Linked DNA regions of Homo sapiens: all the other regions are reported to be linked to region 1. The links are microRNA targets in miRTarBase. Many come from high-throughput screens and were not tested one by one. Region 1 holds a microRNA gene; each other region holds the end of a gene's coding sequence.

Evidence for each region. Region 1 holds the annotated microRNA hsa-miR-520f-3p (AAGUGCUUCCUUUUAGAGGGUU, at 2,696-2,717, opposite strand). A microRNA usually pairs through its seed, bases 2 to 8, with sites in the 3' UTR of a target mRNA and lowers its output. Matches are read on the target gene's strand: a 7mer-m8 pairs with bases 2 to 8, a 7mer-A1 pairs with bases 2 to 7 and ends in A, and an 8mer does both.
Region 2: the mRNA of RNASEH1 is a reported target of hsa-miR-520f-3p. The part of its 3' UTR that is shown has no 7-base or 8-base seed match.
Region 3: the mRNA of EIF2S1 is a reported target of hsa-miR-520f-3p. Seed matches in the 3' UTR shown: 8mer at 3,160-3,167 and 7mer-m8 at 3,656-3,662.

Annotation. Positions count from the first base shown.
Region 1 is chr19:53,705,757-53,710,223 of GRCh38, reverse strand. It overlaps MIR520C (microRNA 520c), which reads right to left and starts at 2,771; the gene lies at 2,685-2,771. MIR526A1 (microRNA 526a-1) reads right to left here and starts at 3,972; the gene lies at 3,888-3,972. MIR518C (microRNA 518c) reads right to left here and starts at 1,489; the gene lies at 1,389-1,489. It overlaps LOC107985346 (a long non-coding RNA gene), which reads right to left. Exons shown (of 5, transcript XR_001753998.1): 4 at 3,017-3,139; 5 at 1,915-1,955.
Region 2 is chr2:3,542,227-3,546,226 of GRCh38, forward strand. It overlaps RNASEH1 (ribonuclease H1), which reads right to left. Exons shown (of 8, transcript NM_002936.6): 8 at 1-3,645. The coding sequence ends at 3,559. Among named protein-coding and RNA genes, the nearest start is that of RNASEH1, 14 kb to the right of the region's middle.
Region 3 is chr14:67,382,703-67,386,702 of GRCh38, forward strand. EIF2S1 (eukaryotic translation initiation factor 2 subunit alpha) reads left to right here. Exons shown (of 8, transcript NM_004094.5): 8 at 613-3,814. The coding sequence ends at 738. It also overlaps a transcript of GPHN not described here. Among named protein-coding and RNA genes, the nearest start is that of EIF2S1, 24 kb to the left of the region's middle.

The sequences.
Region 1 (4,467 bases):
AGTAGAGACGGGGTTTCACCATATTGGTCAGGCTGGTCTCGAACTCCTGACCTCCTGATCCGCCTGCTTCAGTCTCCCAAAGTGCTTGGATTACACACCTGGCCCTTACTCTCCTAATGAAGGAAACATGGTTTGGATTGATTAAACTAAACTGATGAAAGGCCTGTATTTGAAGTGACCAACCCAAATGGAGCCTCAGGAACCAGATGGCATGTAATCTGCGTTTTTAAAGAGATGGGATCTTGCTATGTGGCCCAGGCCGGAGTGCAGTGGCTATTCAAAGGTGTGATCAGTGCATGGTATAGCCTTAAAATCAAAGGACCCTCCCACCCTAGCCTTTGCAGTAACTGGGACCCTGTGTGTCCCAGGATGCCTGGCCGTGTCACCTATCTTTGAAATGGGACAAGGTGGCTCACACATTTAGGATCACTTAAGCTCAGCTGAGACCATCCCAGGCAAAAGAGACCCCATCTCTACCAAAAATTAAAACCTGAGCCCAACTACTTGCGAGGCTGACAAGAAGACCACTTGAGGCTGGACGTGGTGGCTCACGCCTGTAATCCCAGCACTTTGGGAGGCCAGGGAGGTGGATCACTTAAGGTCAGGAGTCGAGACCAGCCTGGCCAACATGGCGAAACCCTTTCTTGTCTAAAAATACAAAAATTGGCAGGGTGTGTTGGTGGGTGCTTGTAATACCAGCTATTTGCGAGGCTAAGGTGAAAGAATCACTGGAACTCCACGGTGAGTGGAGATCCTGCCACTGCACTCCAGCCTGGGCGACAGAGGTGGGAGTTACAGTGAGTGGAGATCCTGCCACTGCATTCCAGCCTGGGCGACAGAGCCAGTCTCCATCTCAAAATAAAATAAAATAAATAAAATAAAACAAAATAAAATAACAGGCTGGGCACGGAGGCTCACACCTGTAATCCCAGCACTTTGGGAGGCCGAGGCGGGTGGATCATGAGGTCAGGAGTTTGAGACCATCCTGGCCAACGTGGTGAAACCCGGTCTCTACTAAAAATACAAAAATTAGCTCGGCATGGCGGTGCGTGCCTGTAATCCCAGCTACTCAGGAGGCTGAGGCAGGAGAATCGCTTGAACCACGGAGTCGGAGGTTGCAGTGAGCTGAGATTCCGCCACTGGACTCCAACCTGGTGACAGAGCGAGACTCCGTCTCACACACACACAAAAATAAGAATTAATAATAATAATAGAGCAAGACATGACCCCAAGAGATCTAGTTTGGAGTGCAACCCCTCCCTCTCCAGCCTGGGCAACAGAGACTGGTCTTGGAAAAAAATAAAACCAAAACAGAACCCTGCCGTCATCCAAGCCTGATAAGCATGCTCTGCGAATGTATTACCAAGATCAGCATCAACTTCAACGTTGCTTTTCTCAAACCGTAACACTCTAAAGAGAAGCGCTTTGTTTTCTTTCAGACAACAGAAAGTGCTTCCCTCCAGAGAGTCACAGCATGAGATCTTCTCGCTCCAGCCATCTGGGATTTTTGTTGAAATTTTCCTTGACCAGGTTAAGATGGACACAAATATAAAGATGCATTTATTCGCTGTTTGACCGTTTTCTGGAATCCAGAACATAAACCTCTAAAAGGACAATCTCCAGGCTCAGCAGATTAGCCTTGTTCATCAAGGGGAATCCTCCTAAGTTTTGTCTCCAAGGAGAAAAAGCAATGCCCACTACACATACCTTACCTTTAACCAAGAGAATTGAGGTGGATTTCTAGAGAACAGCAATGGATTGAGTCACATGGTCACTTGAGTTCCAGCACAGGGACACACAGTCATGATGGGAGCATCCAAAATGGAATCTAAATTTGCCAGGCGTGGTGGTGCCCACCTGTAATCCCAGCTACTCAGGAGGCTGAGGCAGGAGAATTGCTTGAACCCGGGAGGCGGAGGTTGCAGTGAGACGAGATCGTGCCAATGCACTCCAGCCTGGGTGACAGGAAAGAAAAAAAGAATATGCATTGTCTTACACACAAACATTCTCCAGGATAGAGCACTGCCTAGGCCGTAAAAGCTCCTCAATAACATTTGTACAGAAGTACGGGTGGAGTGCAGTGGCTTACACCTCTAATCCCAGCACTTTAGGAGTCGAAGGCGGGAAAATTACATGAGCTCGAGTTCAAAACTAGCCTGCCCAACATAGTAAAACCTCATCTGTAAAAATACAAAAGATAGCCAGGTGTAGTGGTTCATGCCTGTAGACACTAATTCAGGAGGCTGAGGTGGGAGGTAGAGGCTGCAGTGAGTTGAGGTCACAACACTGCACTCCAGCCTGGGCAATAGAGCCAGATGGTGTCTCAAAAAAAATTAAAAAAAAAAAAAATACACAAACAAAAACAACCCCAAAGTGATATAAGAGTATTCTCTGTGTGCAGAAGACTATTTTGTGTGAATATAATTATACATAGAAGATTATATGATAACATGTATATATTTTGGAGACCCTGTCTCAAAAAAACAAAGTTCCATGTACTATATGCTCACATAAAGAATAATTCCTACATACTAGTGCTTGGGCAGCAAGAACGAAACTCCATCTCAAAAAAAAAAAAAAGAAAAAATCAAAACAAAAACAGAAGCCCACCATCATCCATCTCTGATGATAAGCATGCTCTGAAAATGTATTACCAAGATCAGCATCAACTTCAATGTTGCTTTTCTCAAACGGTAACCCTCTAAAAGGAAGCACTTTCTTTTCTTTCAGACAACAGAAAGTGCTTCCCTCTAGAGGACGACAGCCTGAGATCTTCTTGCTCTGGCACTGTGGATTTTTTGTGGGAATCTTCCTTGACCAGGTTAAAATGGACGCAAAAATAAAGATGCATTTATTTGCCCTGTTTGCATGTTTTCTGGAATCCAGAGCATAAATCCCTAAAAGGACCATCTGCAGTTCTTTGCTTCAAAGAATCAGCAGGTTAGCCTTGTTCATCAACGGGCAATCCTCCTGAGTTTTGTTCCCAAAGAGAAAAGGCAATGCCTACTACACATACCTTATCTTTAACCAAGAGAATTGGGCTGGATTTCTAGAGAATAGCAATGGATTTTGAGCCAAGTGGTCGCTTGAGTTCCAGTACAGGAGCGCACAGTCCTCATGGGGGCATCCGAAATGGAATCTAAGATGTTGAAGAATATACACTGTTGTAGGCACAAACATCCTGCAGGGTAGACAACAGGCTACCCTGTAAACGCTCCTCAATAAAATCTGAGCAGAAACAGACGAGTATAGGTGGGGCACAACAGCTCACACCACTAATCCTAGCACTTTAGGAGGCCAAGGTGGAAGATCACCTGAGCTAAGGAGTTCGAGACCAACCTGGGCAACATGGGGAAACCACATCTGTACAAAAAAACCAAAAGTTAGCCAGGTGTGGTGGTGTATGCCTGCAGACAGCTATTCAGGAGGCTGAGCTGGGAGTTGGAGGTTGCAGTGAGCCGAGATCGCACCACTGCACTCCAGCCTGGGCGACAGAGTGAGACTCTGTCTCTAAAATGAATAAGTTAAAAAATAAATACATAACAATAATACAAAAATTAGCTGGGCGTGGTGGCATATGCCTGTAATCCCAGCTGCTCGGGAGGCTGAGGCAGGAGAATCATTTGAACCTGGGAGGCAGAGGTTGCAGTGAGCAAAGTTCCTGATACTGAGCTCCAGCCAGGGTCACAGAGCAAGACTCTGTCCCAAAAAAGAGGGCCACTTGAACCCAAGAGATCTAGGTTGGAGGGGCCACCATACTCCAGCCTGGGCAACAGACACCCTGTCTTAGGAAAAAAAACCAAAAAAACCCCACAAAACCCCAACATCATCCAAGTCTGATTATAAGCATGATCTCCAAGATCAGCATTAACTTCAATGTTGTTTTTCTCAAAGAGTAATCCTCTAAAAGGAAGCGCTTTCTCTTCTTTCAAGCAACAGAAAGTGCTTCCCTCTAGAGGGTCACAGCCTGAGCTCTTCTTGCTCCAGCACTGTGGGTTTTTTGTTGGAATTTTCCTTCACCAGGTTAAAATGGACACAAAAATGAGGATGCATTTATTGGCCCTGTTTGCATGTTTTCTGGAATCCAGAACATAAAACCCTAAAAGGACCATCTCCAGTTCCTTGCTTCAAAGTCTCAGCAGGTTAGCCTAGATCATCGAGGGACAATCCTCCTGAGTTCTGTCTCCAGAAAAAGCATTGCCTACTACACATACCTTACATTTAACCAAGAGAATTGGGCTGGATTTCTAGAGAACAGCAATGGATTTTGAGCCAAGCGTTCACTTGAGTTCCAGCACAGGGACACACAGTCCCGATGGGAGCATTCAAAACTGAATCTCCCATGTTGAAAAATATACATTGTTGGCCGGGCGCAGTGGCTTATGCCTGTAATCCCACCACTTTGGGTGGCTGAGGCGGGCGGCTCACATGAAGTCAGGGGTTTCAGACCAGCCTGGCCAACATGGT
Region 2 (4,000 bases), not on the chromosome of region 1:
GAAAGAGCACACCATACGCTTGCAAATATGGACCAGGACAACCAATACCAACACATGACACATTCGAATAAAACGGCCGACTTGACAGAAAAAGGAAAAAATCCTTTGGGCATCTAAGGAAAAACAGCATATGACTGTCAGGGGAAGAAAACAAGATTCATCAGGCTTTTCATGCATCACTTTATGCTGGAAGAAAACAGAATAAAACAAGATACTCAAAGAAAATCTGGGCCAAGAATTTCGTATCCAGCAAAACTGAATTCAACATCAGAAACTCAAGGAATACTGTCCCCAAGATGACACTGACTATAGACTGGTTATGAGACCTGAACACACAGAAATGAGTCAATGGTGGTAAAAAGGAGCAATTTTTCTGACAACGTAGACACAGTGCTGTTTTCATCATCACAATTAATGCTATGGTATTAGTATTTTTTTTAAATGCTAAATGCTAAAGAGGAATAAAACAAGTGAGTGATTAAGGGATGGATATTCCATGCCATTGTCCTGTGTCTTGAGAAGCAGGATTCCGAGTGCAGGAGACACAGACATCATATAGAGGAGGCTATGTAAAGGCCCCAGGACCCTGAATTTGTATTGGGAATATCAATATAGGCTCAGAAAATATTCTTCCTTTAAATATGTGTGTGCAATGTTTGTATTTTTTTAAAGCTCCGTCCAAAAATCTAGAAATAATGACCAACGCAATAGCAATGAGCATCCTAAACTGGATCTGAAATACCATCTCTACCAGAGACTCTGGGAAAAATAATGGATTCCAAGTGTTAAACGGAATTAAGTTTGGCCTAAAACTGCCTCTGTACATAGTGACTTATAACCTCACTTAATGTATAAGCAAACTGGGACCTGACTTGAGAGTACACTTCTGTAACAAGCAGCAGAGTCTCACCAATCACATGCTGAAGGCTCCCAAAACATGCCTATGTGAGGTGGAGGCTGACCTGCAGTCAGTCTGGCCATGTACATGTGTCTTTCCCTTCCTGTGGCTATAAATAAATACAGCCTGCACACAACGCACAGGAGAACGTTCTGAACCACTTTTGGTCCTGAGTGCTACCCAGCTGAAGAAACTATTTTCTGCTCAATTAAACTGCTAACTTGTCTAAAGTTTTTCTTTTAAGACAGGTTTGGAGCAGAAGCTCTATAAATTGGGCCTAGAGCATCTTGACATGCCAGGCTGCAGGGAGCTATCAATGACTGTGCGTGTGGTCTGTGCACACATGTATGCACACATGTGCACACTTATCAAAAGAAAGCAAGAGCCAAGCTGAAGAGGCTCCCTCTCACTGACCGAATAAGCTAGTCTGAGCTAAATAAAGATAAAAATCACAACGGATTGAAACCCACCAAGTATGCTTAACTCCACAAATTCTTTTTTTTTTTTAAGACAAGGACTTGCTGTCGCCCAGGCTGGAATGTGGTGGCATGGTCACAGCTCACGCATCCTCGACCTCCTGGGCCCAAGCGATCCTCCCATCTCAGCCTCCAGAATAGCTGGGACAACAGGCAGGCACTACCACACCCACCTGATTTTATTTTAATTTTCTGTAGAGACAGGGTGTCACTATGTTGCCCAGACTAGTCTCAAACTCCTGGGTTCATGTGATCCTCCAGCCTCAGCCTCCCAAAGTGCTGGGATTACAGGCATAAGACACCATGCCCAGCCCATGAATTCTTGTATATATGTAAAAACCCTTCACCACTCACCTTCCTTGACAGACAACTAATGCATTATCTTAAAAACTTAGTGTACAAGAGCAAAGAATCAAGCATTTATCCTGCCCTTCCTATATGAACTGTACCACTGGGTAACCAGATAAGTATAAAAAAGAAAACACTTTCTTAGAAAACCATTCCAGCTAATAAAGGCAAGCAAAACGACAGAATGAGAATACCACCATTTTGCAACCCCAAATAATTAATGGATCTTGGCACTGAGCATCAGCTGCCGTCAACATGGTACTTTCCTGAGGAAAGCTCCTAACCGCCTGTTCTCCTGCCAAAGGGATCAAATTTGAGGCTCATCAAGCCTCTGGACCCAGCTGCCAATGTGCAGGAAACATAGAGGACCATGCTGAACTACACCATGACCACGTGGTCAGCAAAATCTACACTGTGGGAAGCCATGGGACAAACAGCCCAGGCTCTTCAACAGATAAACGGCAGGGAAAACAGTGAGGCCGACGGGACTGCAAATGGACACTGAAGTAGATAAAAAAATAAACAAAAAAAAGCAGACAAGACTAAACTGCCATCAAAAAACCAAGAAAGTCATTTCTGTAAAAGTCAGGATTACTTGTTGGGGCAAGGAGGGGGAGAAGAAGAGGGCTGTGGCTGGAGGGGCACTTGGGAGAGCCTCCTGGGGTATCTGGCAAAGTACTATTTCTTCACCAGGTGGTGGACACAAAGGTTATTCACCTTACAATCATAATCATTCAATAAGCTATACATTTGTTTTGTGTCACTTCCTGTATGTTTTTATAATAAAAAGGTTTAAAACTAAATAAATAATCATGTCAAACTTTTACTACTTTTTTTTTTTTTTGAGACAGAGTCTCACTCTGTTGCCCAGGATGGAGTGCAGTGGTGCAATCTTGGCTCACTGCAACCTCTGCCGCCTGGGTTCAAGTGATTCTTGTGCCTCAGCCTCCCAAGTAGCTGGGACTACAAGCCCGTGCCACCACACCTGGATAATTTTTGTAATTTTAGTAGAGACAGGGTTTCGTCATGTTGGCCAAGCTGGTCTCAAACTCCTGACCTCAAGTGATCTGCCCGCCTTGGCCTCCCAAAGTGCTAGGATTACAGAAGTGAGCCACTGTGCCCAGCCGGTGTCTTACTTTTTTTTTTTTTTTTTTAATTTGCACAGTTTTTAACGAAAGAGCCAAATAAATTTTTGAAAGTTTATTTATGCTTCTTGGTCTTTATGAGTCGCAGCTGTTCCTAGAGAATGGCCTAGCAGCCAGGGTCGCCGCAGGCAGGCTTTGCCCTATACTAACTGCCCAGCAAGCAGGCACATGGGGCTGAGACCCAGCACACATCCTGCCCACTGAGCTGTCCGCCCAGGCCCTGGGCAGCATGTTCCTTTAATGTACCCATGGGCACAAGTCACCTATACAAGCAGGAGACTCAAACCTGTCAACTGGACGGTAAATGGATGCTTTCAGAATACTTCCAGACTTCTGAGTTGCATCTTTTAACCAATGGTTTTTTGATTTCTTATCAAAATATAAGCCACAGCATTTTAGGCCATTTGCCTTGCTTGCCTGCAATAAAACAAGCAAGGACAGTATTGAACCCAGTAAACATAATGTGGAAATCTCACATAATTCTCCAATCTCAAAGATGTTCAATTTATTATATACTTAACCATTTTTTATAAACACATGTCACAGAAGGCCACTGTGCCTGATTCCGTGTGAAAGACGCATCTGCCCATCACTGCAATGGTCCTACCTGCAGGCTATTTTCCACACCAGTAAGTACAGGCAGCAAGACAGCCGCTGGCTCAAGTTCTCCCAAGGACTAAAGTCACATGGCTCAGTCTTCCGATTGTTTAGCTCCTTCTCTGGCTAATCTGTCAGCTTCTTCATTGCCTATAAATCCCGAATGACCAGGAACATGCATCTGTTAAGATAAATGTTTTCCTTTTATTTTTACTCATCTTTACATAAGCAACACATGACTATATTGTCATCATAAAAAACCATTCAGAACAGACTGCACAGCATAAGCTCAACTTCAACGCTCCTCTCCCCAGACATGATCCTCAACAGCACGCTGTCCATTCTTCATGCGTTTACGCAATGGATGTGATTTACGAACATTCCATTTTGTTTTTTCACAAATTGGATTTTACCGTTCATGTTGCTATTTCCTCCCCACTTATCAATGGGACTTGATAAGCTTTCCAGGCAAAACACATGTATGTACAGATGGGTGGACGGATATGTATGCAACACACACACACGCTTCCCTTGCA
Region 3 (4,000 bases), not on the chromosome of region 1:
AGGCCTTTGATCACTAATGGTGTTAGGGTCACCCCCCGTCCCCAGCCAGGGGGAAGGGAATAAACAATATAAATGAGAAGTTTTTTTATGGTTTGAATTTGCATGTGGCATGTCTAAAATTTGATCTCAGAATTGGAGAAAAAAAAAGTTGTCTCCTGTCTTTTCCTTGTCCAACAAGAAAGAAGTGTGTGTACGTGCGTGCGTGCGTGTGTGTGTGTGTGTGTGTTATGGTTCCTTCTATGGAAAGGACTAGTAAGCTAGTAAGTAGTAGTTTGAGCCTGGAAGACAGGTTTTTTTAACAGGATATCTATTTGTGGTCTTGAAAGATACAGCCATTGGGGTTATTTCATGTTTTCAGTTTTAGCTTATAAAAATGACAGAAAATAATTTTCCATTTTAATACATACATCCTTTTTCTATACTATTCTCATAAGTTTCACCTCTTATTTATGTAATGGAATTTATTGCTGATAAGTCACTCAAAAGTGAACAGATATGACAGAGTTGTTAGAAAAGTGTTAAAGAGAGAAAACATTAGGCAGTAATAGTATTGAAATTAAATTTGTATAGTATTTACTACTTCAGTTTGAAATTATACCTCTGCTTCCACAGCCCAAAGTGGTCACAGATACAGATGAGACTGAACTTGCGAGGCAGATGGAGAGGCTTGAAAGAGAAAATGCCGAAGTGGATGGAGATGATGATGCAGAAGAAATGGAAGCCAAAGCTGAAGATTAACTTTGTGGGAAACAGAGTCCAATTTAAGGAACACAGAGCAGCGCTTCCTGGCTGTAAATCCTAGACTTGAAAGTTTTCCAGTATTGAAAACTTCAAAGCTGAATATTTTTTATTTCTAAGTATTTAAATGTTCTAACAGATCAGAACATGAAATGCCCTCCTAAATGTCAGCTGTTGTCACACAGTAGCTCCAACACTTTGAGCATTTTTAAGGGAGTGGCCTCATTTCACTAGAGACAAATCTTTAAGAATAGTTCTAAAATTGGGCTTGTGATTTCCATTTCTGATGTCTCCAGATTGGCACCCCTTTCTAGTTCAATGCCTCACGAGATTTGCCAGGGGCATCCAAGGCAAACAATCCCAATCTTTCTATATAAAATGTATTCAAGCAAACATCAAATAAATTTCTGGGATATTTAACTATAGGCTTCTTCCTTCTTGTCACCAGTTAAAAGCATTTTAATACTAAGACCCTAATTCTTTTATCTTTATTTTAGTCTTGATGTGGAACTGTAGGAGCAGGTGAATAAAGGATCTCTATAACAGATCCTTTCAAAAGAAGAGTTTTAGAGAAAATAAATTTAACTTTAACCACAGTGAAAGTTGACCCTTAGCGGGACAAAGCCTTAAAATGCATTGAAAGAATTAGATCGGTTCTGTGCCTTTTATCTATTTGAGATTGATGACAACCTGTGTGAGAGAATTTATCACACCACGTCCTTATTGGAATAATAAGCTACTTGCCTTGAGTTTATAATTCAGGGTGGTAAAGTATGTTTTTAAATTTTAAAAAGCAGCTGCATTTTTTATTTAGTTGGAATATCACCCAATTTTTTATTTTTATTGCTATTAAAATATCCACTAGATGCCACCTAGAGCTCCAGTTCTTTATAACAAAACAGGGATCTGTTTGAACACTTACTGTTGTTTTTTTTTTTTTACATGTTTCCATCATTTCTGTCTTTAAGAACTAATTCGTACATAATAAGTTTCATAGGTAACACATTATTTGAAGTTACAGCTACAGTAGTCAGGTGTAGAAAATCTTGAGTTGCTTTGGTCTGCTTGTCTTCATAAATTTATTCTCTTATGATACTTGAGGTACCAGTTGTATTTAATTTTATTCATTATCCCTAGATAGCTATTAAGATACTTAGATTAGACCTAACCCACCATAGTCAATCCAAGACTAGACTACTCAATATTAAAGGGTCTGGAAAATAGAAGAGTGTGTTGGGCAGGTAGTTTGTACCATTTATGAAGGTTTGTTCCTTTGTTAAATTTAGCAGCCTGTACTAGCTTTTGAAATCCAGAAGTTTTAACTTCCAGTGGCTGGTTTCTGAGAGAGTGCCATGATTGCTAGCCAGCATTCCATATTGGGAATATGTAGAGGAGAACCTGGATGTACTTAAGAGTGGCATATAATTTTCACTTCTGTCTGTTGAGGCATCAAAAAAACAAGTTTAGAAAGCTGGCAACATGAAGAATGCATTCAAAATATAACAGGTGCTTCTTTGTTGTACGCAGAGGAATTTTTTCTTTTGATTTTGTTTACTGAAATTTGTTATACTTCAAAAGCCATAACTTGAAAAATACTGGTGGCGTCGATGGTGAGTGATTTTTATCCCACGTGGGCCTTTTGCTCAGTTCCATGGCAATTTTGTAAATTGACCCTAGCCAGAGAATAGATCAGTATTTCACTGATACCACGAGGAAAAGAACAAACAAAACTTAAAAGTATTCATACACCTTGCTAACCTAAAAGACAGCAGGGACAAGATACATATGAGGACAAGGTATACACCCAGTTCTGAATAACTTGAAGAACAGGCTTGGCAAAGAAGTAAGTTTATCCAAATCTTGAATTTCTGCCAGGCATGGTAGCTCATGCCTGTAACCCTGGCACTTAAGGGGCCAAGGCAGGAGGATCACTTGAGGCCAGTGAGCTGTGATCACTCCAGTGCACTCGAGCCTGGGTGACAGGGCAAGACCCTGTCTCAAAAAAAAAAAAAAAAACCAAAAATCTTGAATCTCCCATCAAAGCCTTTTCATTAAAAATACAATTTCATCTACTCCCTACTGTACCTTTCACTGATGTCAAGTGGCTATCAATTCATATAGCTGAAAATTAGTGATAGTTTGGGTCTCATTTATGCATAAATTAATTGAAAATCAGTAATGGCCAGGAAGAAATATGAATATTCAAACCACTTTTTTCTTTTTTTTTTTTTTTTTTTGGCAAATGGTGTTATATTGCCTGGGCAGGTCTCGAAATCCTGGGCTCAAGCTATCCTCCTGCCTCTGCCTCTGTAAGAGTGTGAGCCACCATGCCCCACCCAAACCATTTTTCATATCAGTTATAGCAAAACAAGACAAACCAGTTCTTAATAATGTTCAAAGTTGGACCCATAGAGACATGCTAAGCACTACATCATGCTAAGAAGAACAGTTATTACTCAGCTGCCATACTTCAGCCATTCTACTTTTACACCAAGAACAAAATGGCTAGAGATTTTTTTAAAAATACAAATGCCAGTACCTTGCCGAGACTTGTTCACTGATTTGCCCCAACCCCAAGGTAATGGTCATCTACTTTGCAACCTATGGAGATCCTGATAGCTCCCATACAAAGTGAGGTACACTGTTGCCAATTTGGAGGCAGGAAGCCATCAAACTAAACGTAGTTTAATTCAGATGAACACCTATCGATATTCAAAAGGCAAAACAAAAAAACTAATTCCAGGGACATTAGACCTTGGTGAAATGCCAAATGGAAAATGGTGCTTTAAAAGGTAGTCTCTTACCATATAAGGAATAAGTAAAACATTAGCTTGTGATTTCTCATTATTCAGGTCAATGTTTTAGACACGACTAACAAGGGACAGTTCAAACTATTAAAGAGAACAAATTTTTACTTAAGCACTTTGAGGTATCCACTCCCCTTAAATGTAAGTTATGTATTTTATCTGTTGATTAAGGGGAGGTCCAAGCATTTGTACTTGGCAGGAATGCTGGCAATAGCTTGTGCCAGATTACTGTATAAACTTGAAAGTAATAAAAATGTTCTTTAAAAGTATTGTATGATACAGACTTTTCACTACAGATTAACCTTCCAACTGGTGAAGTTTCTTGGTACCTATTTGTCTCAGCTTATATTCATTTTAAAACCAAAATTTAATGCCTTGATATAAATCTTCCCCATTTACATCTTTTTCTGTCCTTTAGAGCGCTCTTACTCTGCATTGCTAAATGCCCATTTTTC